2 separate regions of the Homo sapiens genome follow, and region 2 is linked to region 1. The links come from fine-mapping of genetic effects on gene expression. A gene starts in region 1. The other region holds a variant in brackets. All regions are shown on one strand. Distances are between the middles of the regions.

Region 1 (15,339 bases):
GTTTCCAGTATTGTCTAATCACACAAAGAAGACAGAACTTTGTATTATTTATATGCGATTTCCTGATAAAGAAATCAAAGTATATGAACTTAGAAGACTTGAATGCTATACTTCTGGTTTAAGAAACTGATATATCATCTACTCTGTCATCTCAGATTACTTAAAAAGTTCTATTTTGTTAAGACTATTATTTGCTTAGGTTCAATTTGCAACCCAAGTTAAAGAAGCACTTCCAATCTAAAAATCCAGAAGAAGTAATTAAACTCAGATGTAGGCTGTTTTCATTGCCTAAATTATTTTTAAAACATAAGGTAACTTGACATTTTAAAGCAATTACAATTATTTTCCAAAGAAATGCTAGGGTGCTTCACATTCTGCCTGTAAAACGACAATCATTTAAAGAGTATTTTATGTCATCAACTGTTGTGTGGTTTTTAAAGTCCTCTGATCAACGGTCCGAGAGGGAGGAGGAGGACAGAAAGAAAACCAAAAAAAGCTATTACATAAGAGAAGTAATTTAGAAAAACTGTCCTAACTGTTCTACCTGGGCCTTAAAGGGAAAGAAAAAAAAAAAACACCTTTGCTGGCTTCAGATACATTCATTTAAAAACAACAGGCGGGCAGGGTGGGGAGGATGCAATGAGAGAACAGGTAATTTTAAAAGGCATTGTCTAGAAATGAGAAATGAGGAGAAAACAACCTCAATGCTCTATGATTACCCAAGAACAGGTTTAGCCAGATGAACAAGTCTGCTACAAACCCTCCCCAAGGCATTTGAAAGACTATCAAACAAAACTTTATTAAACTGGATTACATGTTCTCATTCATTAGATGTTGAAGGCCACAATGTTTATGGTCAGGTGAAAAAGCTGATGCAAGGGACCCAAACCAGGTCTCGGTCTTCTTTTCAGTCTGTTTTTATTAGTACAAGCATTGTTAAGACAACCCACGATTAAATGTATTTGCCGGCAGGTCAAGTTCCTGAATCGCAGGTATAAGCATTCAGGGCACTAAACCCTGACGGGGTGAAAGGCTATTCAGATATGGGTTTGACTACATCCCTGCAATAAGTAGTTGATTACATCGTTATATGCAATTGTGCTCTTTTATTAGGAGACTTTAAACCCAGGAAAATGTGTTCCCTCCTATCTCTCAAGGACTTCCAAAAGTGAAAAAAACAATAGTTCAAATGTCTTTATATTTCCATTTATATTCTGTAAAAGGACATTTTGGTATTTCTACATGGAATATTTTCCTGGCACTTGTCATTTGTATTTTGAAAACTTTAAGTTGGAGTTTTTATAACATGCTTAATTCATTTGTGTTTAACTATAAAAATTTCTACCTTGGGCTGCCTATGAAGGATCCTTCCTCTTATGTAATCAGTTTGTCTCCATGCAAAAACCTCAGGCCAAAACAGCCCGCTCATTTCATAGATAAATACATAAGATGCCTTCTCCTTAAAAGCAGTTTCTCAAAAAGCCCTGGAATCTACAACATTGTCATCGGATTTTAGTAAGTAGTGTTTATCACTGGGATATCAAGCAATGCTTCCTAACATGCATACAAAATGTCTGCAACCATATTCCTCTTAGGGCTCTACCTCAGCACTGACCTTTGTTCAAAGGCTTTTACTTTTTAATGCAGCAGTTAGAGATAACTACTTCATTTATCAAAACTCAATTTCCATAGTAACATCTAGCCTCGGGAGATTCAAGTCCTCACACTAATCCAACAACCCATTCAAAGGAACTGTTGAATACTTTGGTTTCCATAGCAATGATGGAATAATACATTTTGCTAGGTCATTGCTTTTATTAGCAAACTTATTCTCTGAACTTTAGGTAAGGCTGTATTTATTGAGGGAAAAAAACACAATCACTTTATATAAGTTCTTTTCTTTAGGGCTGCTCTTTTAAGAAAATCGCAAATAGTAACCATCTATATATTTGACAATATTTGGAGTATTTGGGGGGCCTTTAAAGTATGCCACCTGGTTTCATCTTAAAATGGCTTCTGATATAATTTTAAAGTTTAAAAGCTCTTAAAAGTGCTGGTCGGGCGCGGTGGCTCACGCCTGTAATCCCAGCACTTTGGGAGGCCGAGGCAGGTGGATAAAGATGTCAGGAGTTGGAGACCAGCCTGGCCAACATGGTGAAACCCCATCTCTACTAGAGATACAAAAATCAACTGGGCATGGTGGTGGGGGCCTGTAATCCCAGCTACTCGGGAGGCTGAAGCAGGAGAATCGCTTGAACCTGGGAGGCAGAGGTTGCAGTGAACTGAGATCACACCACTGCACTACAGCCTGGCAACAGAGCAAGACTCCATCTCAAAAAAAGTGACTGCTATAGATTGAACAAAGCAAATACAAAAGTAGAGGAGCTAAACTTAAAAGCATATGTAAACAAGAATGAATGTAAGCTAGAATAAAGATCAAGTCTCTCACACATACCAAGTTTAGGCTGGGGCTTGTAACCCATTTCTGACCACCTGATTTTAACACTGCAATTTCAGCACTACCTTTCATCAAGCACAGAAAACATACTAAACACAGATATTTTAACCTAGAGGTGAAACTAACGTTTTCACCAATTATGCAGTACACTCCAAATGGGAAAGTTTTTAAGAGTTTAAAATGGCTTTCTCAGAGCAAAATTATTTGCTATGGAAGAAAATGAGTTTTGTTTTGTTTTTTTTCCTTCAAAACACTGCCAGTATAAGTTTTAAAATCCATTAGTAAACATCGCTGTTTACATTTTTGGGTAATCAACTCTGAGCGGTGACAGGGCAAGAAGGCCTTAGTGAGGGAACATCACCGGCCTTCCTGGAACCAGATTTCTCATGGAACTGAATTCTGAACCAAGCCTGTGCTGAAAAGGTAGGCTATTTAAAAAAAAAAAAAAAAACAAAGTTGACAGGAGAAGAGATCAAACACGTGTTAGCTTTTAAAAGGATGAATACCACTTACACTATTTACACAACTCACAGAATTAACAAGAAAATTACATACCAGTGTGAGTCCTCAGGTGAGCTTTTAAATGAGAAGACTTGGTATAAACTTTTGTGCAACCTAAAATAAAGGAGAACAGCATGTCATTTTGGAGATCCTTTTGAAATCTTTACATTTGATGATTCAGTGTTTAAAATCTGGCTTTAAAGAAGAAATCTCTCATGCTAGATGAGATTATTTGAAGCTTCAGTTTTAAAAGTTTTAAAGAGCCCTCCCCCATTACCTTATTAAAGGCATGAAGTGATTTGTTTTATGTATCACTTTAACAGGAAAGAATACAGATAATCAAGCCAAACTACAAATGGAAAATTTGTGTTTATATTCCAGTAGGTGCTGTACTTCCGTATTAAGAGCTGCTATATGTTTTTTTAAAAATTTTAATGGCTCTAGAGCTGACAGTACTAAGCCATTATCCAAGATGACTGTAATTTTCTGTACTCCCACATTTCTTCTTTTTTCATTTAGCACGTCATGCCATATCATGTATCAGAGTCAATAAATTTTGCCATGTATTAATCATAAACTAGCTTTCCCAGTAACTTGTAAATATATTCCATGTATTGTCTTCAACTTATACTTTGGGCCATGTATGTCATTCAAAACTGAGCATATGCTCACGTGCCATCAAAACCATTCTTAAATCTGTCTTGTAGACAGTCTTGTACCTAACATCAAGCTAGCTGCCTGCAACCTCCACTTCACCACCAAACCTTATTTTCCCCCACCCTACTTTAATCTCTTTCTGGGGCACTTAATTTAGAATTAAAAACTGCAATTTATTCAATTGCCATTTTAAAGTAACTCTGGCCTAACTCGAAATAATATGTATTAGAAATTCAAATCTGTTTTAATATTAAAGAAAAAAAAATCCAAGGGAACTTTTTCCAGAATATTCTAGCCAAGTTTTTGATGCATAACATAAGCAACAGACAACTAACTGGTTTACATACCAAAGTTAAAGCACAGAGATAGGATAGAGAAAAAAAAAAAGGTAATTTTTTTTTTTTTTACTGTCAAGTACAACTTTCCTATTTAAAGCCATGAGGTTGAAAAGGGCACGCGCGTGCACACACGCACACGCGCGCGCACACAGACACACACACACACACACTACATCTATTGATGCTTCAACCAGGTAAGAGCACATACCAGGGTAATCGCAGTAGTGGATGCGTCGTTTCTCCAAATCGGGGTTACTCCTTCTATTGTATCTGACAGGTTGGATGTTTTGTGAGTTAACTGGCAGGGTGGTGGGTAAATTTGGATTGTGAATTGCCAGTTTAGAAGCAATTGTAGCAGCATAGGATGGAGGTGGGGTTAAATTCTGGAGCATCTCTGCTTGTCTATCTGGACTTCCAGGCTCTGAGCTTGGTGGTGACGGGGGAAAGTAAGTGGCCTGTTGTGGAAGAAACTGACTTGGCATTGTGTATGTGCAAGGGGGCATGCCCTGGAATTGTTTCACTGCAGTCTGCGGAACAGCAGAGGTGTGTGTGTTAAGGCCTGCCATGGCAGCTGACATAGAAACATTAAGAGTGTCCATTGCTGCTGTCTGATTTGTAGAACTGGGCATATCTAGATCCGGTGTATTCAGTAGCTGGTACAGGTGGCCCTGCTGGGTAGGGACAGAAAGATGAAGATCTGGTGTAGGAAGTTCTTGTTTGATGAAAATATTGTTCACCTCTGGAGCTGCGGTCTGGTGTGAGCTGAATATACTGGTGAACTCAGGGAGGGCCTGGGTCGGGGCCGGAGGAGGGGCAGTCGTTTCACTCTGGTGGCTGAAAATGGCAACAGGTTCTGTCTTGATGTGTGTTACGCACGGTCTCTGGGATTTGTAGAGGCCAGTTCTCAGGTGAGTGATGTCAGGGAGGAAGACGTTCATGTTGATACTGTAAGGTAACCCTTCAGTGTCAGTGAAGAACTGGTCTACGACTGAGGCACTGTCTCGTCTATACTTTTTATGCTCTGGAATTATAGGAACTGGAGGAAGCTGAGGTGTCAGATACTTCTCCATTTCACATCTTGTCTAAAAAAGAAGAGATATAAAATGCATAATCCACCTGATTCACCATCTCGGGAAGAACGAACAATCGGCGCCTACTAAAAATTCCCCCAATCCCTGTGTAAGGTACTAGGGCAAACTCCTCAGTGTTGCTTATAAACATATCAGGCTTATTTTGTCGATTGTGTAATAACTGGTTGACCAAAACCTTATGAAACTCTGTGTAACTGGTAAAACTGCTCCCCCAATCACCCCCAAAAGTGAAAGACGCAAATCAAGAATAAAAAAGAAAGCAAACTTAAAACATTCCATTCTGATGCAATAACAAGGTACCATCACCCCTGTACAAGCAGGATTCCCTGCCCCATTACACAGTTAAGTTTGCAATTAGAGTACAGTATTGAAATGTTGCCAAACTACCTCAATTCTGTTTAAGTCACAAACATTAAAAAGCGTGGTTTTTTTTAATAGAAAAAACGATGCAAACCTTTAAAATATTGCACAGGTTTCTTTTCTTGACTAGATACTTCAAAAGTAATATAAAAATATTATTTGGCTATTTCAGTGTCTTTTCTTGTTTACAGTTCAATGAGAAATTAAACACAACGTTCTAAGCAAAACCTTGTATCCACTGAAACAAAACAATTTCACATTCAATATTTGATCTAAATGTTGATTTTCATCAGCAGATCCTGTAATTGGTTAATATGATAATGAAATGTTCCTATTCATATCCCTATCTAAAACAGATCTTTAATTACCTAGGGGAAAATCACTCCCTTGGTAGAGTGCTGCTAAGGAGCCCGTGGGTGGGGAGGCTGCTGTATCCCTAGCACAGTCATCAGCAAAACATTTATCATGTCCTTCTCAGTGGGCCAATGCTACATTCCCCCCTACTCTGTAAAAAGCTCAGTCATCCCTTATCTTCTTAGTGCCTCCAGAGCAGAAAATTGACAAACTGAAATAACCAAATACTTTTCAAACGGTGATCTCTTTTCTAGGCTATAAACCAGCTTGTAACAAGTCGCCTCAAGCCTTTTCCAGCTATCTTCTCTCCTAGTATAACTTAAGCCTACATTTTTTAACACTGAAAAGGAAATTTCGAAAGATAAGAAAACCAACTAGATGGAATGGCGCATATATTAGCTGTGGCACCTTAACAGGTAAATAAGACAGTCATTTTCTGCTACTACTTCATTTCAAATGCGTTTCATCTCGGACCTTGGTGTGGATGCGGACGGGGTTTCCCGGATAGACATGATTTAAAAATAAAAATTAACGCTCTCATCATGTGAGTCACATCTCTGACAAACGCCACTGCCCTCTCACAGCAAGACCCTGGCAGACCCCACGGAGTAGGCGCTGGGTAGCAAATATACGACACGCCAAAGAGCTACTAAATGAAGTGTCTTGAAATAAACTGAACTAAACCCTTTCGTGCACTGCGCTCCCGCGGCGGTTAGTGGTTTCTGATTTTAGCTCTTCCAGCTGTTTGCATGTGGGTATGTTTCCAATTTTTTTTTCCTTGGGACAGGCTAAAAGTCCCGGGAAGTTTTTTCTGGGCTATATGACTCCCTGCGTGGGCGAAAGAAACAGGCGGTTGCTCTAATTCGGCTGCTGGGCAAGTGTAAAAGCCAACTGCCAGCTTTCAACGCGGCTCCGGGAGGAAATTTACGTGCACACGAAGAAAACAACACCCCCGGTCTTTTTTTTTTTTTTTTTTTTTTAAGGAAAAATAAGCGCTCCGACACAACCTTAGCTTTCCTAACTCTCATTTTCCAAACGCGGCCCGCAATCGCTTCTAAAGCAGGTTGAGCCACCGGGTATGAAACCTTGGGGAACCTCTCCCCAGCACCCCAATTTGCGTTTCTACTTAACCCGAGACGATGGGGATGGGGGGGAGGGCTCCAATGCCTTGGCATTGGAGAGCGGTACAGGCGAAGGCGTAATTTAAGTAAAACTGAGCGTAAGGTACAAGGTTTCGTCCCTCAAGTGTAAGAAAAACAACTAAGGTGCGCGTGAGCACCCAGTTCCCTCCCTCTTACCTCTCCCAGGCCGACCCGCCGGGGCAGATTCCCCTCCATCCTTCCCACCCCCGGCCCCCCCCCCCATTTACTCTCAGCGAAACGCGGGGCCCCGGCCAGGCGTGCAGGGCGGGGCTGCCCACCCAGCACCGGCTCCGGTGCGCCCCGACGCACGCCCCAGCCTGGAGCGGCCCCTGTCGCCCGCGAGTCGCAGCAACGGGACACGCCCGAGCCCGGGAGTGCTGCGGTGGGAGGGGAGCGGCTCTTCCTACCTGGACCAGGTCCTCTGGAGGCAGCCGCGGGCCGGTGGCGGGCGGCTGGGCCGGCTGCGGGGCCTGCGCGGGCGCGGGCTGCGCCTGCGGGCGGTGGTGCGCGTGCTTCAGCTCCTCGCCGGGGAAGAGCGCCGCGTCGCGGGCCGGATTCGCGGCGCCCAGCACCGGCTTGAGCTGCGCGAACACCGGCTCGTCCTGCGGCGCCGGCGGCTGGGGCACGGGTCCCAGGCGGGCGCTCATGCTCAGCACCCTTGTAGCCATGGGCACTCGGGGGCGCAGCTCCAGGCGCGGGTCGGGCGCACTTCCCACCTCGCCCACGCTGGCTTGGGTCGGCGAGCTCAGCGCGGGGCTGCCGGCGGAGGAGGGGAGGTTTCGGGTGGACTCCTCAGACAGCGGCAGGCAGTTTTCGAAGGCGCGCACGAAAAGCAAAACTCTTCCGCTCTTCCACACGTAAACGCCAACGTCCTCCGGGCGGCCACTTTCTCCCGCCCCGCCCCACCGTGCTCTCAGGCTCTCCGGAGCCCGCTCCCGCCACCGCCGACCTCCGCGAGAGAACCGCGAGCGCACGTACCTGCCCCGCGACTACTGACACTTGACGCCCGCCTCTATTTCACCCAACTCCGGGGGGGCGGGGCCCGATCGCCTGATTGGCAGCGCCGCCGCGAATCCCGAGGCCCCGAGGCCGGCCAGGCCTGAGCGGCCAGCCTATGAGCAGGGAGAGAGGCAGCCAGGGCCCCGCCTCCGTCGGCCCGACCGCACCCCTCTCGGGCCACGAGCTTCGCGCGCAGGGCGGCCGCGCAGTTTGTACACAACTTCTCTGACAGATTGGGCTGGCGGAGCCGGGGGCGGAGGGAAGTAGCGGAGCGGGTGGAATCTGGGAAGAGGGGGAATTAGGGTGGAGACGCGGAGGGAGATCTCTTCGCACTGTTCTCTGCCAGGATTAGGAAGAAAAAGAGTATTGCACGTCTTAGGTGTTGTGCAAGGACCTGAAACTCAAAAGCTGAAACCCAGAAGGCAGCTAGGTAGGGGCGCTGAGGCTTTTAGAGATTTGTCTAATGAGTGTGTACTTTTAAATATCCAAAATGTACTTCTCTTTAGCAGAAAACTAGGGGCGGTGTGATAAACAAATTTAAAACAGCTCTTGTCCCTGTGTATCTTTAGCAGTGAGTGTATCCGTTTAACAAGGCAAATTCAGAATGCCTGAATAAAAGATTTGATGGCAAGCGTTTTTTCAGATCCTTGCATAAAAGCCTGGGTTTTTCCCACTCCTTCAGGATTTTAATTGCTAGACGTTTTCCCACACATTTCTACTTCCCATCCGTGTGTGGGGAGGAGGGCTTGGGCCATATGAATTTTGAAGTTTCTAATATTTAAGCCGTGTTGATTCTAGCCGAAGCATGGAATCTAATTTAAGCACGACTAGCTCAAACGTGTATTTAAATAGACATTACATCTTTGACTTATTTTTGCTAGCACTGTATGTTCAAAAAATGGACTTTAATATTTACAAAGCAGAAACCTAGCACATTTACCTCACATTGTGGCACCTTTTCCTACGAAGAGACAATCAAAAAGCCGCAAACATAGACACAGAGCAGCTCTGAAAACTGGGAATCCAAATTTGTTGGAAAGTAATAGCCAAATATATTACCATCCATTTACTATGTTGTTATAATGGGAGGGTGAATTTTTGCCAGCAATCACCTAAGGAAACCACTTCCCTTAATCCTTAATGTTCTTGTACATGATTTTATCTGGCTTATTGGGAGGACGGAACAATAAACTGCAATAAAAATGCCTGTGATATTACTACAAATGTACATATGTTGACACACAATATACCATTAGACAGTTTTACATATACCACAGCCTATTCATCACTTCAGAGTAAAACAGCTTTAAAAAAAAGTCTTGGATAAAAACGTTCACTTCAAAGAGTGTATCTATCAAAGGTATGGATCTCATTTTCAATGGGTAGAAAATTAATATGCACATAAAGAAATGTATTTATTATTAGAAAATATAAAATTATGCTGTAAACTGGGTTTTTCTCCTTTTCCTTCTCTTCCTGTTGACACATGATTCATTTTTATAGCTGTGATCACTGCCTTCAGAGAATGGCTGATGACTACTTTCATGTTATCAAAGTATTATTTAATAAGTGCTTTTGCAAGTTTTTCTCTAACCAAGCAGCCCCATGCTGTCCATCTTCATCTTTAAAAAGCTGTCCTGCTTTTCTCTAATGTAAAACCTATCATGTAATTAATTAGCTTAGAAACAGATTATAGAATTAGGATGGGATTTAATGTAACTCTTTTAAAAAATTGAGCTTTGAAAGATTTTTAGTTACTTAATTCTGATAACATCAAACCTAAATGTGATGTAGATAATTCTTAATAGAACTTTTGTGCTCTTGTAACTTTAAGCTAAATCTAACTTAGATTTAATACATTCGGTAGCTGTATCTTAATGTGCTTTTAAACCTATCTAGACCTTTCCTTTTGTCTTTTTACGAGAGCTTCAGTGGCCCGGTCTTTCAACCTAAGTTTTCACTGCAATAAAATCCATGTATTTTACTGGAAATGCTTCTATAATTTCACACCACTTTTTAACATGCTTTCATTTACAAAAGCTTTTTCATTGCAAAAAAAAAACCATACAACTAAGTTTTTAATATTTTTAGTCTTGTTAATTTTTCATATTTCCACTTTTCATAATATAGATATGAAGCTAGCGTTGGGGTTCTTATAGTAACTGAATATATTCCTTTTTGCTCCAATACAGTAGCAGGTTTTAAAATTCCATTTTGGGCATAAAGATTCATGAAATAGGGCTGCCACTTTTAAGTAATAGTTTCTCTGAAATGCCCTGCTCTGCAGTCTCACAGAAAATAACTAGCTTAGCACTGTACAATAGTACGGAAATTGGAAAGTAATCCTTTTCGGAGACATTTGCCATGTGATTCTGAACATATAAAGAACATGTTCGACCAAGTTTCCTTGCTGTTGCTTTTAACATAAATGCTACAGCTGCAAACCTGTTTCACCGACTTAGTAAAAAGGGTTAAAACTTGATAAATATTTTTCAAATGTTCCAGGTTCTACATTGGCTTGAAGCCAGACAGTGTGAATGGACAGATCCTCAATTACTTTGAACTTTCTAGTTCTTTGCATTCCTTCCCGCTTAGTAGTGCTGTACCATTAGGGAAGATAGGAGAAAACAAAAAACAAATGTCAGGTTTCAGAAATCAATTAGTGGCCTGGCAGTGGTGTGTTAACTGAACTGTGCCAAAACAGGGGATTCTGAGGGAATGAAATAAAAATGTTGAGTAGTCAAGTTAGGTAGGAGGGTAAGCATAGAAGCAGTGTGCATGCTTAAGTCCTTAGTCACTGGGCAACACAGATTTAGTCTTAGAATAAACCATAAGTGTCACTATCTTTACGGGAATAAATACGGATGAATATGCGGGGGCTGAACAGGCATTCAATGTTGGGGGAGGGGGTTTGAAGGAGGCAGTGGAAAAAAATAGATAAATAGCTTCTGAATGATGAGATGAGGGAAATATGAAGCTATCACTAGGGCAATGTTCACACAACGACACGGCAAAAGGAATATCTAAATTCAGTTGTTTGGCAAATCTAAATTCAGTTGTTTGGCAAAAACGTCACAGCTTGAAATTAAGAGGTATAGAGTATCACAGCCAACAAAACTGTATTCACTTTGAGTAGAAAAATATTCATAGAATATTTATTTCTGCCAAATCAGTATCAAATTGCCAAGTGATCTTGGGCCACAGAAAAAAGAACAAGAATAAAAATGAAAAATAAAGCTTTATACGGGAGCACACTCTTCTCTAGGGTAAGATTATTTAATTAAAGTGACTTTTTGGTAGTCATTGATTGCACACCCCTGTTAGAATCTGTATCAGTGAAAACTTAAAACTATTGTAATTATTGTCCTCTCCAACATTTCACATCTGTAGTCTTTGTATTTTTTCATTAATGGCAACCACCTAAAGCCACACATCAGAAAAAAAGTCATTAAGGAAATAGCCTGATAAATAGAAGCTTCAACTGAGATTAGTTGGAATTTAAAGCATTTTGACTCAAAAGATTACGAGACAAGAGAGAAGATGCTCTGTTCATTGCTTTTGTGATGAAAAAATATGCAGTTTAAATAAGACTAAATACTTCTATTTATATTAATTAAAATTATGTCTTAAGACAACAATTTAATATTTTATTTTTGTAATGTCTCTTGCCTCCAGTTCTTAAGAAATTACATTTTATATTTCAGTTTGGATTTTTAAATGTGTTCTTCTTAAAATATTTCATAAAACTCCCTTTATGCACTTATTCCTAAGGGTACTATAATTTATCTAGCCTAATTTTAAAACTCTAATAATATCCAAAAAAACAGGAGAGTTTTACCTTTTGGAGAGACTGGGATTGCTTTTTCCACCTTGTTAGTATAATAAGTAGACAAAAGTGACATAAATATAAATGCCTGGAACCAAGTTATAGGCCAAGCGTATTGTAGCTTAAACTGCACAGTATTTAAATTCTGACTCGAAACATGATAGGCAAGGTTAAAAGAAAGGTCTGAGCTAAAGTGGTTACACCAAACAATCTTTTAGAACATTAGGGAGGTCTCATCATCAGCATCACAATGGGCAGTGTTTTGAGCCGATTGCTGTTCATGTTATGACAAAAGCTGTAATGTACCAGGCTGTGGGGAACACCCTGTGAATGCTCAAATGAACCGTGCATGGGTCACACGGAAATACTCTTTTAGATGTTGATTTATAGATGAAGTGTGTAAAAGTAGTGCTAAAAGCAATGTGAGTTCTTCATGCCTTAACTTCCATACACTGTTGATGGTTGTGTAAACTTTAAAACTTTGGGGAAGGACAATTTGACAATAAGTATGAAAAAGGCTAAAATGTAAATAACTTTGAAAATGATAGATAATTCCTCTTCTAGGAAAGGTGTATGTGTATATATATACACACACACACATATATATACACATATATATATATATATACACACACACATATATCTTTATATATAAAATTGGGCCAGGCATGGTGGCTCACACCTATAATCCCAGCCCTTTGGGAGACTAAGATGGGAGGATTGCTTGAGGCCAGGAGCTGGAGACCAGCTTGAGCAACATAGTGAGACCCTATCTCTACAAAAATGTTTAATATTAACCAGGCATGGTGATGTATGCCGGTAGTCCCAGCTACTTGGAAGGCTGAGGCAGGAGGATTACTTGAGCCCAGGAGTTCAAGGTTACTGTGAGCTATGATCACACCACTGCACTCCAGCCTGGGTGACAGAGCAAGACCCTGTCTCAAATAATAATAATTAATTTAAATTAAAATAAAATTGGAAATAACCTAGGTTAGGTGTCCAACATTAGGGGAGTAGTTAAGCAATACATCCATACCATGGCTACTGTTATGCCACCAAAAAGTTGAGTAGTTGGAAAAAAAGGGGAAAAATTCTTATTATTAAGGAACATTTAGTGACATGGGAAAACATTCATGCTATGTATAGTCAAAGAAAGGGGTTTTATAAATATGTACCCACAAAGATGAAAAGAAAATACCAAACATGGATGTATTTTGGTGGCCCTCGTTAGATGGTTATATTATAGGTTACTGCTGGGCGCGGTGGCTCACGCCTGTAATCCCAACACTTTGGGAGGCCAACACGGGTAGATCACCTGAGGTCAAGAGTTCGAGACCAGCCTGGCCAACATGGGGAAACCCTGTCCCTACTAAAAGTAAAAAAATTAGCCGGGCATGGTGACGTGCGCCTGTAATCCCAGCTACTCAGGCGCCTGAGACAGGAGAATCACTTGAGCCCGGGAGGCAGAGGTTGCGGTGAGCTGAGATTGCACCACTGCATTCCATCCTGGGTGACAGAGCAAGACTCCATCTCAAAAAAAAAAAAAAAAAAATTATGGGTCATTATTCACTTCTGGATACTTTTCAGTATTTTCTAGATTTTCTACAATTGCTATGTATTCCATTTGTAATCAGAATAAATAGTTTAAATGAAAACATAAATAAATATTACCTTTCTACAGCTAAGGGTTAGTTGGAACTGAAGTAGTTGATGATCAAATGATTTTCCATTTGAAGCCAGTAAAGTGTACCTACAACTTGCCAATACTCTGTACTGGGAAAACATGTAAACTTTCTTAACCAAGCTGCTAGATTTTCAGGAATTTCACTGCAGAATGAAGAAGCTGAAGAGAGATTACAAAGGGGAGTTTGAAGTTCAAAAGGGATAATATAGGGAATGTCTGAAATATAAATATGCTTTAATTCATTTCCTAAGTGATCAGCAAGACTTCCTCTACACTTATTTTTACTCTGTTATTTTGGGTATCTCATTTTACTTTGTTGCTCTGTTTTCTCATATTAAATAAAATAGGCTGCTTACACTGATTTGACAAAATGCATAGACTCTTAAAACCAGGTAAAGTTTATATGCATCTTTAAAGAGGTGTTTGTGTTTGGGTTTTTAAATTCTAAAATACTCACATAGAAGATTTGGCATGAAATAGTTTCAAATGGGATGTTATCTTTCTTTCTCTCTCGCTTTTTTTTTTTTTTTTTTTGAGACAGGGTCTTGCTGTGTTGCTCAGGCTGCAGTGCAGTGACACAAACATGGCTCACTGCAGCTCCAGCCTCCTGGGTTCAAGTGATCCTCCCACCTCAGTTTCTCCAGTAGGTGGGACCACAGGCCCCACCACGTCAAGCTAAATTTTTTTATTTTTTGTGGAAACGGGGTTTCTCTGTGTGGCCCAGGATGGTCTCGAACTCCTGAGCTCAAGCAATCCTCCTGCCTCAGCCTCTCAAAGTTCTGAGATTACAGGCTTGAGCCACCATGCCCAGCTCATACTATTGTTTCTCTAAGAGCCTTGTTCTCTTTTCCGGAACATAAAGTTGTTCAAAAGTTATTCCCAAATTTGGTTACTGAGATTTCAGAAATTAAAGTGGAAGGAGGGTGGGGATGGTAGTCTACAAACTTGATATTTAAAACATATTCTAGAGGCGCAGCAAGATGGCTCACACCTATTATCCCAATGCTTTGAAAGGCTGAAGTGGGAGGATTGCTTAAAGCCAGGAGTTCAAGACCAGCCTATGCAACATAGCAAGACCCCAGTCTCTGCAACGAGTAAAAAGAAGAAACTAGCCAGGTGTGGTGGCACACGCCTGTAGTCCCAGCTACTTGGGAAGCTGAGGCAAGAAGATTGCTTGAACTCAAGAGTTTGAGGTTACAGTGAGCCATGATTGTGCCACTGCATTCCAGCCTGGGCAACAGAGCAAGACCCTGTCTCAAAAATAAAACATTTTCTATTAAATATTCAGTAGACGGCTGAATTTCTAAGGACCCGTTCCCACCCCCCAGCTCCCCACTGTCGTGACCACAACTCACACATAAAACATACATATACACCAGTCTTTATTCTAAATTATTCGGAGCATTGGTGCCTGCAAACATTTTTTGAACACTCTGTTCAACAGTGCTCTATGCAGAGCACTGTTGCAGGTCTTAGAAATAAAAAGATGAGCTGGGCACGGTGGCTCACGCCTGTAATCCCAGCACTTTGGGAGGCTGAGGTGGGTGAATCACAAGGTCCGGAGATCGAAACCATCCTGGCTAACACCGTGAAACCCCGTCTCTACTAAAAATACAAAAAATTAGCCGGGCGTGGTGATGGGCGCCTGTAATCCCAGCTACTCGGGAGGCTAAGGCAGGAGAATGGCGTGAACCCGGGAGGCGGAGCTTGCAGTGAGCTGAGATCACGCCAGTGCACTCCAGCCTGGGCGGCAGAGAGAGACTCCATCTCAGAAAAAAAAAAAAAAAGAAATACAAGGATGAATAAGATATAGTCCCTGCCCTAAGCACTGTAAGCATCGCCTGATAGGTAACCTTGCTTCTCAGATGATAGGTAACCTTGCTTCTCAGATATGTTTCATTATTTTCCTCAGTGAGGAAGGAAGTTCAA
Region 2 (15,339 bases), 89 kb after region 1:
CCACCTGCTCTTCACGTTATATCATTCTGAAATTAGTTGTTGAATATATTTTCTCGCAAAAAAAGTTAGGACTAAACATCACCTAATATTCCACTCATAGTTCAAGAAATACTCAATTGTAAGAGATCAATACACATTCCTGGAAATTGTCACACCACACCCTAACTCTTAACATGAGAGAAGATACTTTTAAGCTAATATTTTTGAGCTAACACTAATATAGAAAATAAAAACTCTCTGTGGTCATGCCCCAAATGTTTCTGAATTGTCAACCTAGAATTGTCCTACTTGCTTTTTCTGTTTAACACATATTTTGGAATTATGTAAATGAACTGGTGATCTTACTTCACATTACATGAACACATACAGCCTAATCAGAACTAAGTGACACTGCTAAAAAAAGTTAGAGCTAGGCTGGGTGCAGTGGCTCATGCCTGTAATCCCAGCACTTTGGGAGGCTGAGGCAGGTGGATTGCCTGAGGTCAGGAGTTTGAGACCAGTCTAGCCAACGTGGTGAAACCCCATCTCTACTAAAAATACAAAAAAATTAGCCAGGTGTGGTGGCATGCGCCTGTTAATCCCAGCTACTTGGGGGGCTGAGGCAGGGGAATTGCTTGAACCAGGGAGGTGGAGGTTGCGCTGAGCCGAAATAGCGCCACTGCACTCCAGCCTGGGTGACAGAGCAAGACTCCATCTCAAAACAAAACAAGACAAAACAAAACAAAACAAAACAAAACAACACAACATTAAAGCAAGAGCTGTCCAATGCAAAAAAGAAAATAAGAAACTTTAAAAAGTTCATTTGGTCTCTTTTTGAATCACTCATTTACACTGTCCAAATTTAACTGATTAAAACCAGACTGGTATCAGATAATTTTCCCAGGGTATTGACCAGGGTGAGACAAGCTAGCGGCCTTAGGTAAAGAAGCAGTGGCTCCCAGGGGCCGTCCATGTTCTTTGCCCACTCTGAGAGTAGGCACCTCCTTACATCATGTGTCCTAGATGCCTTGCTTGCCTCACCCTAGTCCCAGCCCTGATTTTCATTTTCAAAAAAAAATCAGAATTATTCTTAACCAATGTTATCTATTGACTATTATGAGGACATGATCCTCTGAACAATCAAGTGAATAAATCAATCCTGTTTCATCAGGTAAATGTTCAAGTGAATGGCCAAGCATTTCTAGGGGGTCACACCAGCTGTTTTCTTTCCATATATGCAATTTGCGGAGGCCTTTGCATGTGTATATATGATGTAAGTTGGTAGTAAATGGTTTCTTAGAAAATGATTAATAACATTAGATTTGTTTTACTAAGCTTTAATTTTTACTTTGCTTTAAAACAAAAAAAGTTGCTTTTCTTTAGATGTTTGGTATCATCAAAAGCTATACAATGTTAAATTATTAAAACATACTTGCCAAAATAAAGATATACTGTCAAATACATAAAAACTGACAATTATCTAAATATGCATCCATACAAATACCAGTAATAACATGTAGTAGTAGGCAATTAATGAGTAGTTTCATCTTGCTAGTGTTTAAATTTCTCCCTCCTTCCCTCCCCTCCTTCGCTTCCTTTCTTCCTTCTTCTTCTTCCTCTCCTTCCCTCTAACCCTCCCTCCCTCTTTCTCTTTCTTTCTTTTTTAAAAGATAGGGTTGCACTACATTGCTCAGGCTGGAGTGCAGTGGCTATTCACAGGTGAGATCAGAGTGCACTATAGTCTCAAACTCCTGTGCTCAAGTGATCCTCCTGCCTTAGCCTCCAGAGTACCTGGGACTACAGGTGTGTGACACTGTGCCCAGCTCTGCTAGAATTTAATTTGCATGCTTAAACGTATTTTCTTCTCAATCCACCACGCAAAGTTTTTTGGTTTTTATTTGGACTCATGAGTAATGTGATTCCAAGTGTTGGAACTGCTCATATATTTTTCAGTGTAGCACATCCCCTTAAAATCAAATGAGAATTGCCATTCTGAAAAAAAAATTAATATCTAGCTTTAAAAAAATGTAGTTGATATGGCTGAATGGTCATCTGTAGTTACTACTCTTAAATATTTAATTTCAAAAACACTTGCGAAAATTCCACATAGTGAATGAATCAGGTTTCCACAGTGAAGAAACAATTACTTGAAAGCAGAATCCTAGGACATAAGTGACAGCAGCGGTGATGGATAAGGTCTAGAATGTCCGAACTCAGAAGAAAGAATAAATATCTTCAGAGAAGCTTTTCCTAGCTCTGTAACCTGTTGTTAGATTGACTTACCTTCCTAAATGTTATCATTACAATCTAGTCCTGGGACACTTTCTCATCCTTTTCACCCATCACATAGAAGACACCTTTAAGAGAACTCACTCCAATGCCATTTCTCAGATACAGACAATCCTCCAATTCTTCTGACACCATCTCTAGGATACGTACCTTTGAACTGCTTCCAGTAATAGTTTCCAGTTCCCCTCTCTCAACAATATTCTCCCAATAATTTCTTCCCAACATCTGGTATACCTCTCCCAGACTAGTATCAGGATACTCATAAACCAATGATATGTTTTAAATGTTTTGTTTTCTGGTCGGGCGCGGTGGCTCACACCTGTAATCCCAGCACTTTGAGGATTGAGGCGGGCAGATCACTTGAGGTCAGGAGTTTAAGATCAGCCTGGCCAACCATGCCGAAACCCAGTCTCTATTAAAAACACAAAAGTTAGATGGCATGGTGGCATGCACCTGTAATCCCGGGTACTCAGGAGGTTAAGCCAAGAGATTCGCTTGAACTCGGAAGGCAGAGGTTGCCGTGAGCCGAGATCATGCCACTGCACTCCAGCCTGGGTGACAGAGCAAGATCCTGTCTCCAAAAAAAAAAAAAAAAAAGTTTCTTTTTCTATTAGAATAACAAAATGGTAAAAAGATGGCTAAGATGAGGCAGTGATAGTTCAGTAGAAAAAAGGCTTTGTGTTAAAAATACCAATGGTTGGTGACGATGCAGAGAAACTGGAACTCTCATTCATCGTAGAGGGGGAATGCAAAAGTATAGTAACTTTGGAAAATTTTGACAGTTGCTTATAAACTTAAACATACACCTGCCATACAATGCAGTAATCATGTTCCTGGGTATTTACCCAAGAGAAATGGAAACTTTTGTTTATATTAAAATGTGTACATTAATTGTTTACAGATATTTTATTCGGAGATGTCCTCAAATGGAAACAACTCAAATGTCCATAAACTGTGAATGAATTAACAAACTGGGTTACATCCATATAATGGCTTATTACTCAGCAATAAAAAGGAAACATATGACTAATGTAGATGTATGTACAGGCTCACACCTGTAATCCCAGCACTTTGGGAGGCTGATGCAGGCGGATCACTTGAGGTCAATATATTATACATCTGTATTGCAACAATATATATGAATTGCAAATGTATTATTGTAACTGAGAAAAGCCAGACTCAAAAGGCTATATACTGATAATTTCACTTTTATAGCATTTTGTAAAAGGTAAACAATAGTTACAGAAAATACACCCGTGGTTGATAGGGCTGGGGGTTGAGGAAAAGGGTCAGCTAAAAAGGGGTAATGAGGGAATTTTGTGGAGTAATAGAACTATTCTATATATTGATTGTGGTGGTGCTGACACAACTGTGTGCATTTGTCAAAAATCACAGACATGTCTGCTAAAAAAGGTTAATTTTATTCTTTGTAGATTATAACTCAATAAACCTTAAAGGAAAAAAACAAAACAAAACAGAACTTATCTCTTAGTTACTAACTGCCATGGGCAAGCCACTTAAAACTCATTTCTCCATCTATAAAATAGGAATTATATTTACTCTAAAAGAATTTTGGTAGGGAACAAATGAAGAAAAGAAAATAATTTTATGAACTTTAAAGCTCAACACAAATTATCTACACTACAGGCACTGGGCATACATTGATAAAGAAGACGAGAGGCACACTAAGGAAATTAACTGTCTAGTTGCAGAATAAGATAAAACAGATTATTATTAAATAATATGGGGAAATTCAGTGACAGATATCAACACAACAAGAAGGGGTTATTCTAGGAATAAGAATTAACTCTAAGAAGTATATCAAAAGTTGAATAAAAAAGGACAAAATTACAGTGAGACATAAATAAGAGAAGTCATTAATGAACATGCACAACTGGGATCCAATAATTTTAACCTGATAGCAGTTTTTAAAAAAGCCTAAAATGATTACAATTATGACAAAATAGGAAAAATACCTCACGATGATTTAGAAGTTGTTCTAAATCTAATGCCATTTGATTCTTCGTCTGTAGTAAAGCTGACTTTTCTTTATTTAAGTTGCTGAAAAAAAAAACCCCAGTTTTAAAAAGTCATTATGTTAGTATAAATATAGTTAATAAATGGTAAATATTAAAAGAATAAACATGAATCTGATGGTTTGAACTAAAGATAAATTTATAGTCCATAAATATTCCAGACCAGCCACTAAAATGTTTGGCCCAATGAATGGCCTATTTTGTCAGAAGATCTTTTTCTTTTCTTTTCCTTTCTTTTTTCTTTTCTTTCTTCCCTCTCCTCTTTTCTTTTCCTTTCTTTTTTCTTTTCTTTCTTCCCTCTCCTCTTTTCTTTCTCTTTCTCTTTTTTTTAAAGAGATGGAGTCTTGCTGTGTTGCCCAGGCTGGAGTGCAGTGGCTACTCACAGACATGGTAACAATGAACTACAGCCTCAAACTCCTGGGCTCAAGCAATCTTCCTGCTTCAGTCTCCTAAGTATCTGGGACTACAGGCATACATCACTGCACCCAGCTTTTCTTCTCTTAAGAATCCATTTGACAACGTAACTGAGATGCTGTCTGAGAATAATTTCCTGCCTAGTATAGGCATAAAATTAATGTTTTAAAGATGACTATTTACTACTAAAATGTAAAAAGATAAAGAAACTCACATAAAAGGTAAGAAGTACTATGTCAGCAAACTATTACAACACAAGATACTAGAAGACAAATTAAAACATCCTTAAAACTGAAAGTAATATTTTACAAACTAAATTATCAGGTATATAATTGAGTTAAGTAAGTGAATCAGGTATTTAGTCTGTGATAAACTTGAAAAAAGAACGTTTGTCTCCAAATTATTAGTTTGATTTTCAATTTCTGGCCTGGCATGGTGGCAATTATCTAATGAATGATTACAATAAAAAAGACAAAATTTGTGAGGGTAAAACTAACAAGAATTGTTTTAAATAGGTAAAAACATTTTTTTTTTTTTTGAGACGGAGTCTCGCTCTGTCACCCAGGCTGGAGTGCAGTGGCGCGATCTCGGCTCACTGCAACCTCTGCCTCCTGGGTTCAACTCATTTTTCTGCCTCAGCTGTCTGAGTGGCTGGGACTACAGGTGTGTGCCACCATGCCCGGCTAATTTTTGTATTTTTAGTAGAGATGGGGTTTCACCATGCTGGCCAGGCTGGTCTCGAATTCCTGACCTCACGTGATCTGCCCACCTCGGCCTCCCGAAGTGCTGGGATTATAGGCGTGAGCCACCGCACCTGGCCGGTAAAAACATTTTTAAAGTTCTACTTAAGTTCTACTTTAAGAAAATGGAGGCAGGGCACACTGGCTCATGCCTGTAATCCTAGCACTTTGGGAGATCGAGGTTGGAGAACTGCATGAGCCCAGGAGTTCGAGCCTAGTCTGGGCAACACAGAGAGACCCCCATCTCTTAAAAAAAAAATGTTAGCCAGGTGTGGAGACATGCACCTTTAGTCCCAGCTACATCAAAGCATGAGGTAGGAGGATCGCTCGAGCCCAGGAGTTTGAGGCTGCAGTGAGCTATGATGCTCCACTGTATTCCAGCCTGGGAGACAGAGTGAGGCTCTCTCAAAAAATAAATAAATAAATAAATAAATAAATAAATAAATAAATAAATAAATGAAAGCCACTAATCTTTAGAATAATATTTGGCAGACTTTTTTTTTTTTTTAATTCAAGAAACAGTAGTAGGCAATCTGCAGCAACTGCTAATTCAAAGGACTTAAGAGGGAAAGCCCACATTCTTCTCCTTCCAAGTAATCGAGAAGGAAGCATCATAGTTTGTCCTCTGAGGAGACGGACTAGATGCAATTTTGACTTCTGTTCCCAACTGTGCCACTGACTCAGACTCAAATGTGTGCTGTAAAGCATAACACATACCACCCCACTGAACCTCAGTTTTTATATCTGTAAAAGTAGAACATAATACTCATGTATGTCAAAGGACTATGTGAATGATTATATAAAGTGTTGAACTCATAAAACTATATAAATGTTATACAGTGTTACTAATTTAGATAAAAAAATAGGCATCAGAGTAAAACAGTAATTAAATGCCAATAAAGGTAAGCAGCTCAGCTGAAAAACAAACTGACTTTTAGAGTTAGGCGCCAGAGATCCCACAAGAGCTGAGGAGTTGAAAAGAACAAAACAGTATAAAGGAAACTGAGTGCCATGTTCTGCTAGAGTCTCCAAAGCATGGTAAGGATCACATGTTTCTCTAACTCTAGAATTCTAACCACCTCTTTAGCTGGAATCACTTTGAAGGCAAAATATTTTTCAAATTTAAATATCCAGTAAATAGGACTAGGAACTTTTAAGGAACATGTATGTGTCTATGTTCATATACATGTATACACTTATAACCACGGTATATAAGCATATACTCACATTCAGTGCATACACACACACACACACATACACACACACACACACACACTCACTCTCTGTTTCAAATACCAACTGGCTCTTCTAAAGAATATGTAGTGTAATCGGAATGGAATGTCGAGGTAATTAAAGGATTTTGACTGGATAATTCTTCACAAATGCTTTTATATTGTCGTGTTTTAACTTTTCAAAAATAAAGTATTCTATAATTAAATAGCAAAACAACCGTATATACATGGAATAAATGGTGGGGGGATAAACTGGCTTACAGAACAATTATGTTGCACCTGTAAGACATGAGTTTATTACAAACAATGTGGACTTCCCAGACAATATTGCTGTGATTACAATATCTGGGCATATATTTTGTCTTCTTTATAATATACTCGAACCACAGGGAGACAACCTTTAACATGTGGGTCTCTAAAACTGAATATGATGATTATTATATTCACTCTTCTTCTAGTATGTATTTACTCAATAGAATTTTAGTCTTCATAAGACATATTTCATAACAGTGGAAACTTACCTTTGAAAATACAAAGCTTCTATGAGTGACTCATAAAACAACTACAAAACAAATCTCCTTGTAAGCACATCTATCTTGAATGGTATATTACACCCATAATTGTTAAATTCACTGTTAATTATTACTTAGAAATTCATGTTTATGGCTCTGTTTCACCTGCAATACGAAAACATTCCTGATATATTGTTCCTTAACTTCCTGGATCAATACACTCTGGGATAGCTTTGTAAGGGAAGTTGGCAATGTAGTCTTATCTTTAACTACCAGTTAAGAATAAACTGAGAACTGACAACAGGCAAAGAAAATTATGCTAATTATTCTCTTTCCAAGCTTCCTTCCTTTCTGAAGTAGAGATCAAACTGTATTAC[A/G]CAGAGTGTCTCTTGTGGCTTGGTGGAAGAAAGTTAACAGTACTATTTTTATAATAAAGTATTACTTTAATGATAGGAGAATTTAAAGCAGTTAATAGTGACATCTCAAATGTTAGCTTTTAATGTGTTTATGATGATTTCATTTTAGTGAATATTTACTCTAGCCTTTCTAGAAATTGAATATATTGTATAAATAGTTGATTTTCAAGGGGTAAGTATGGTATAGTGGTATTGTTTAATTTTCTAAGAAAAGCATACAATTATTCAGTTCTTCAAAGAGTTTTTATTGAATTAGAAAAACATTTAAAAATCATCAATTGATGTAAATATTTTTACAACTAACATCAACACCTAGCAATGAGGAATAGGAATTTTCCTGTTTATGTTTTCTAAGGAACATAATAACTTGATAACGCTTTTGGATGGGCCATCATTAATGTTTAAATTTCAAATAAAAGACAAGGGGAGGGAAGTAACATTTACTGAGATTCTCCTACATGCCAAAGCTTTATATATGCCCCTAAATTTAATTTTCACAACTACCCCTTCGGGTTCATATTAATATCTAATTTTACAGACACATTTACCATAAGGAGAGAAACCAGCCTGATGTGTATTTAAAGCCCAGGATAATTCCACTCTAGGATTTGAAATGCCATTTGCTTCGAGTAGGGATGAAGGAATGTGGGTATACAGAACTGTGATCTATCCTACCATATCTGAATTACTGGCTGAGCTGACTTTTTAATGGCATTGTTACATCACAGCATTTCATTCATGTCACCAGGGTACACCTATAGCAACATCTCAAGTGTTGTAATTAAACTACTGAAAGTATTAATAACTTTTCACTTTAGAAGGTAGTTGCTTCAATTAAGAATAAGATTTCATATCCTGTGAATTATCAGTTCAGAATGTACTAAAATATCACACAATTAATTTATGAAACACAAGACAACATTAAAGGACTCATGTTTAGTACAAAATTTTTCTTGGTAATTAATTCCATAAATGACATGGCCTTTATGAAAACCGTTGCTGTTATTAAGGGAGTCTTAATTTTTGTTGAAATTCAACATATTTTGAGAAATGTTATTTCTCATTTTTAATATAATTTTCAACCAAAAATTTGTTACATGTATGGTAAGTACTAAGAATGGCAAACATTTATTGAACACTGTTGAATATAATGTTTAGGCACTATTATATCTGTGTATATTATGAAGATTATATCATTTATTCCTCAGAACAACCCTATCAATCGGGTGCTGTTAGGACCACTCTCATTATTTTTATTTTTATTTTTTTTTTGAGACAGAGTTTTGCTTTGTCACCCAGGCTGGAGTGCAGTTGCTCATTGCAACCTCCACCTCCCAGGCTCAACTCATCCTCCCACCTCAGCCTCCTGAGTAGCCAGGACTACAGAAGCGTGCCATCACACTGGCAAATTTTTCTGTATTTTTTGTAGAGACAAAACCAAACATGGTTTTGCCATGTTGTCCAGGCTGGTCTCGAACTCCTGGGCTCAGGCAATCTGTCTGCCTCGGCACCACTCTCATTTCACATATGAGGAAACTGGCTGTACTGTGCAATACCACAGCCATTGGCCACTAGGGCAATTAAAATTATCTTTAATTTTAATAAAATTAAAAATAAAATTAAAGATAATTTAAACAATTTAATTTTAATAGAATTAAAAATTTAGTTCCTCAGTAACAGTAGCCACATTTCAAATGCTCAGGTTGGGTGTGGTGGCTCATGCCTGTAATCCCAGCACTTTGGGAGGCCAAGGCCAGCGGATCATTTGAGGTCAGGAGTTCAAGAACACCCTGGCTAACAGGGTGAAACCTCATCTTTACTAAAAACACAAAAATTAGCCGGCTGTGGTGGTGGGTGCTTGTTATCCCAGCTACTCGGGAGGCTGAGACAGGAGAATCGCTTGAACCTGGGAGGTGGAGGTTGCAGTGAGCCGAGATCGCGCCATTGCACTCCAGTCTGGGTGACAAGAGTGAAACTCCGTCTCAAAGAAAAGAAAAGAAAAAAAAGAACAACAACAACAACAACAACAAAACCCCAAAACAAATGCTCAACATCTATATGTGGCTAGCTAGTGGCTACCATACTGGACAGCACTGATGTAGAATTTTTCTTTTTTTGGAGACGGAGTCTGGCTCTGTCGCCCAGGTTGGAGTGCAGTGGCGCAATCTCGGCTCACTGCAAGCTCTGCCTCCCAGGTTCACGCCATTCTCCTGCCTCAGCCTCCCGAGTAGCTGGGACTACAGGCGCCCGCCACTACGCCCGGCTAATTTTTGTATTTTTAGTAGAGACAGGGTTTCACCGTGTTAGCCAGGATGGTCTCGATCTCCTGACCTCGTGATCCGCCCGCCTCGGCCTCCCAAAGTGCTGGGATTACAGACTTGAGCTACCGTGCCCAGCCAGATATGGAATATTTTTATCATTATAGAAAGTTCTATTGGACAACAGAGGTATTAGAGAGTTTAAATTACTTGCCCTAACTCAAAACTAAGTACTGAGTTGAATTTGAAAACTTCCTTTTAAAATCTGTTTTTTAAAAAATTTTATTATAGAATATTTCAGAAGAGAAAATATGTAATAGCAAACCCTGATATATCTATCACCCCGCTTCAACAACGATCAACTCATTAAAGTGCTACTTTTAATCACTATGATACACTACTTTTTTGTTCTCTTCCTTAATTATTTTAGCTAAAGAAATATTATCCCTTATTCAGAATAGAACATAGAGGGGCAGTATAACCTAATGGTTAGGAGAATAGAATTAGCAAGCAGACAGATATAAAATTGAATTCTTACTCTATCACAATGTTGCATGTTCTTAGAGGACAAGTTGCTTAATTTCTCTATGGCTGAATTTGTTCATCTTTATAATTTTCTCCTACAGCTAGCTATTATTTTCTCTATATTAAACATTTTAAGCTACCTTAATTCTTAGTAAAATAAATAATCAAATAAATTTGTTTGGAGATAACTGTGAAAGGAGTAATTTTTTTCCTCAGGATTTTTATATACCTCCTCATCACAAGAAATAATGGTAAAATAAGACATATAAAAGATTCAAATTTTAAGGCCGGGCATGGTGTCTCATGCCTTTAATCCTAGCACTTCGGGAGGCCGAGGAGGGCAGATCATGAGGTCAGGAGTTCAAGACCAGCCTGACCAACATGGTGAAACCCTGTCTCCACTAAAAATACAAAAATTAGCTGGGCGTGGCAGCGTGTGCCTGTAATCCTAGCTACTCAGGAGGCTGAGGCAGGAGAATCACTTGAACCCGGGAGGCAGAGGTTATAGTGAGCAGAGATCACATCATTGCACTCCAGCCTGGGTGACAGTGAGACTCCGTTTCAAAAAAAAAAAAAAGATTCAAAATTTAATTTTAATTTTAATTTTTTTGAGACAGAGTCTCACTCTGTTGCCCAAGCTGGAGTGCAGTGAAATGATCTCAGCTCACTGCAACCTCCGTCTCCCCGGTTCAAGCGATTCTCCTGTCTCAGCCTCCAGAGTGGCTGGGACTACAGGCATGCATCACCATGCTCAGCTAACTTTTGTATTTGTAGTCGAGACAGGGTTTCACTATGTTGGCCAGGCTGGTCTAGAATTCCTGACCTCAGGTGATCTGCCTGCCTCAGCCTCCCAAAGTGCTGGGATTACAGGTGTGAGCCACTGCGCCTGGCCAAAAAATATTCAAATTTAACAGAAATATGTAACATAGGAGGAAAAAATTCTATTTGGGGTTCTTTCTTCAATTTCCCTAAGATAATCAGGTGCCCAGTGAATTGTGAAAGACATAATTTCTATTGTCCCCAAGAACTATTTATAGAACAATTAATTTATTATTGTAGGTTGTATACAGAATTTTTAACTTTAAAATTAATCTAGAAACAAACTTATTTATTTTGACACATTTAAGGTATAAATGTGCTCCTAAATTATTTAAACAAATCATAAAAAATTAAGAACAGGAATAAAGTTCTAGACCAATTATTTTGGTGGGGTAGAAATGAAAGAAGGTAATTACTGTGATTCATTAAAAATAACATTTATACTTTGGAATTAGTTACCAATAGGTTTATATTTTTGTTTGCATACTTTAAGAAACCTGGATTTAACAACCATCTTCTCCTTATTGTTTTCCAATTCCTTGATTTAACCATTTCTATTCCCACTTAATTCTCTGCTTTTACATTGATAATCAGTTAATAATTTACCCATAAAAATCTAAATTATTCTTATAATCTTGGAAATCTAGTAACTAAGCAAACTAACCATCTATCCACAAGTAAAACTGTTTCATTTACACATATCTTCATTCTTTAATTTCAGTTTAAAAAACCAAACTGGTCATAGCAAATTTTTTTTGGATAAGATCTCATACAGAAACAATTACAAATTAAGGAAGTGAAAGAAATTTATTTATTTACACTTAAAAGTTACTTTCATGTAAAAGGTCAGAAGAAAAGCCTAAAAATTCCTTGGAAAAATCAACATAAATCTAAGTAAATGTAAATTTTTTGTTGTTGTTGTTTAAAAAGCCATTTTAACGACACAAATGGCATCTGGTTTTATTCCTCCTCTCCCTCTGGTCAATCTACACCACACTAAAGAGTTCTAGGGAAACAAGGACCAATAGCGGTTGTGTCCTCTAGGATAGATGGAATGTTATGCTCATAAGTGTAACATTGTTATTTCCATGCTAAGACATCTGATCACAGGTGGAATGTGAACACCTGATGTGATGTGACCTTAGTTTTTCTAAGAAAAGTTTAATATTCATTACATTTAAGACACCTTCATTATTTAAATTTTCTGTTCATGATTTACAACCCAAATTCACCTACAGCAGCAATATGGTAACAATGTCTTTATTATTCAAATAAAAGATTTGTAGATGGTTTACCTGACATCTTTCTCAAGTTGTGCAATAGATTCCGTCAGTGAATCAATCTTAGAATCTCTCTGACGCACTGATTCAATGAGATACCTGTAAGGCTGTTGAGTCTGGTTTAATAGCGAATTGGCTCTGTCAAGCTAAAGAAACACAGGTTTCATTAAAATCTAGAAAATGTGACAACAAAATAAAATCATTCAAAATGCTCTAGCACAAATATAGTACAGAAATTCCTTTGACATGAATTATTCTGAAAAGCTTTTCCTGTGTAAATTTGAAGGTTTTAAGAGTGAATCAATATAGCTATTCTTAATAGCAACTATAAACAATAATTTTTTTTGTTTTCTTTTTTTTGAGACAGTCTCGCTCTGTCGCCCAGGCTAGAGTGCAGTGGCGCGATCTCGGCTCACTGCAACCTCCGCCTTCCAGGTTCAAGTGATTCTCCTGCCTCAGCTTTCCGAGTAGCTGGGATTACAGGTGCCTGCTACCATGCCCCACTAATTTTTGTAATTTTAGTAGAGATGGGGTTTCAGCATGTTGGCCAGGCTGGTCTTGAACTCCTGACCTCAGGTGATCGCCCACCTCAGCCTCCCAAAGTGCGGGGACTACGGGTGTGAGCCACCTCGCCTGGCTGAAAAAATTTTAAATAAAATATTAATAGCAATTTTGAGAATGCATAAACTTAAATTTTCTTAGTATTTGTCTTGGTCTGAAAAGCTATATGACATAAAATATATCTTTTTAAAATGGAAACACTTAGCTAAAAGTTAAACTCTTTTATTTCAGCTTTACTTCTACTAAAAATATTCACACCATAATTCAATAATTTTTTCATTTCTTCATATTCCCTTGTTTTAAAAATACATAATTTATATATCCAAATCATTATGTATAAATTTTTGACAAATGTGTTTTAAAATATAATGTAAAATTTACCATTTTAATCATGTGAAAAGTGTACAATTCAGTGGCATTAAGTACATTCATAATGTTGAATAGCTACCACTTCTATTTCCAGAACACTTCCATCAGCCCATATGGAAACTCTGTACCCATTAAACAAAAACTCCCCATTTTCTCCTCCCTCCTGGCCCTAGAAACCTGTATCTTACTTTCTGTCTCTGTGAATTTGCCTATTCCAGATACCTCACATAAGTGGAATAACACAATATTTGTCCTTTGCTGTCTGCTTATTTCACTTAGTGTGACGTTTTCAAAGTTCATCTATGTTGTATCATGTATCAGAACTTCATTCCTTTTAATGGTAAATAATAGTCCACTGTATGTTTATAGTACATTTTGTTTATCCATTGATCTCTTGATGAATACTTGGGTTTCCACTGTTTGGCTATTGTGAATAATGCTGCTATGAACATTGGTGGACAAATACTGTATATCTTGAGTTCTTGTTTCACTTCTGTTGGGTAGCTACCTAGAAGTGGAGTAGAACTGTTAGGTCATATGGTAATTCTATATTTAACTTTTTGAGGAACTGCAACGGTTCCACAGTGGTGATACCATTTTACATTCCTACCAGCAAGAAATTTGATTACAATTTCTCCACATCCTGGCCAAAGCACATTATTTCATGTGCATACTGGGCATTTGTATATCTTCTTTGGAGAGAAGTCTTCCCAAGTCTTTTGCTTGTATTTTAATTGTGATTTTTCTTGTTGTTGTTGCTGAGTTGTAGGAGTTCTCTATATATTCTTAATAATATAGTCTTATTAGATATGTAATTTGCAAATATTTTCTTCCATTTTGTGGGTTGTCTTTTCACTTTCTTGATAATCTTATTTATTTACTTACTTACTTATTTTGAGATGGAGTCTTGCTCTGTCACCCAGGCTGGAGTGCAGTGGTGCGATCTCAGCTCACTGCAACCTCCGCCTCCTGGATTCAAGAAATTCTCTTGCCTCAGCCTTCTGAGTAGCTGGGATTAGAGGCGTGCGCCACCATGCCTGGCTAATTTTCATATTTTTAGTAGATACGGGGTTTCACCATGTTGGCCAGGCTGGTCTCGGATTCCTGACTTCAAGTGATCTGCCTGCCTTGGCCTCCCAAAGTGCTGGGATTACAGGCATGAGCCATTGGGTCCGGCTGATAATCTCCTTTAACTCACAATTTTTTATAATTAGGAAATTCAATTTATCTATTTTATGTTTTTGTGCTTGTCCTTTTGCAGAAATTGCCAAATCCAAGGTTATGATTTTCTCCTATGTTTTCTTCTATGCATTTTATACCTTTAATGCTTAAATTTAGGTCTCTGATCCAGTCTGAGTTAGCTTTTGAATATGGTGTAAGGTAAGGGTCCAACTTCATTCTTTTGCATGTAGATACTCAGTTTTACCAGCCCCATTTGTTGAAAAGACTGGCTTTTCTCCATGAAATGGTCCTAGCACTCTTGTTGAAAACGACTGGCCATATAGGCAAGTGTTTACTTCTGGGCTCTATTCTATTAATATTCCGTGGGTTTTTATGTCCATCCTTATTCTAGTTGCACACTGTTTTGCTGACTGTAACTTTACAGTAAGTTCAGAAATCTGGAAATCTGAGCCCTACAACTTTGTTTTTCCTTTTAAAGATTGTTTTGGCCATTTAGGGTTCCTTGAAATTCCATATGAATTTTAGGATCAGTTTTTCCATTTCTGTAAAAAATGCCATTGGGATTTTGACAGGGACTGAATCTAATTTGTAGAATGTTTTGGGTAGTATTATCATCCTAACAACATTAAATCTTCTAATCCATGAATATGGGATGTCTTGTGTCCATTTGGTTAATTTATTCCTAAATGTTTTCTTCCTTTTTTTTTTTTTGAGACAGGGACTCACT

Which allele goes with the higher level. Alleles are on the strand shown, and positions count from the first base shown. SD is a standard deviation of normalised expression in the study named.
With allele G in place of A in region 2, the expression in monocytes after R848 of the gene that starts at base 7,892 in region 1 is higher (moderate effect, 0.62 SD a copy in Quach 2016).

Evidence for each region.
Region 2: its variant is fine-mapped to the expression of KLF5 in monocytes after R848 (Quach 2016, PIP 0.95).

Annotation. Positions count from the first base shown.
Region 1 is chr13:73,051,558-73,066,896 of GRCh38, reverse strand. It overlaps KLF5 (KLF transcription factor 5), which reads right to left and starts at 7,892. Exons shown (of 4, transcript NM_001730.5): 1 at 7,309-7,892; 2 at 4,163-5,036; 3 at 3,014-3,073. The coding sequence starts at 7,569. RefSeq lists silencers at 7,129-7,218, 7,539-8,148.
Region 2 is chr13:72,962,581-72,977,919 of GRCh38, reverse strand. It overlaps PIBF1 (progesterone immunomodulatory binding factor 1), which reads right to left. Exons shown (of 18, transcript NM_006346.4): 15 at 12,516-12,646; 16 at 4,245-4,329. Among named protein-coding and RNA genes, the nearest start is that of KLF5, 89 kb to the left of the region's middle. The variant A/G (reference allele first, on the strand shown) is at 7,580.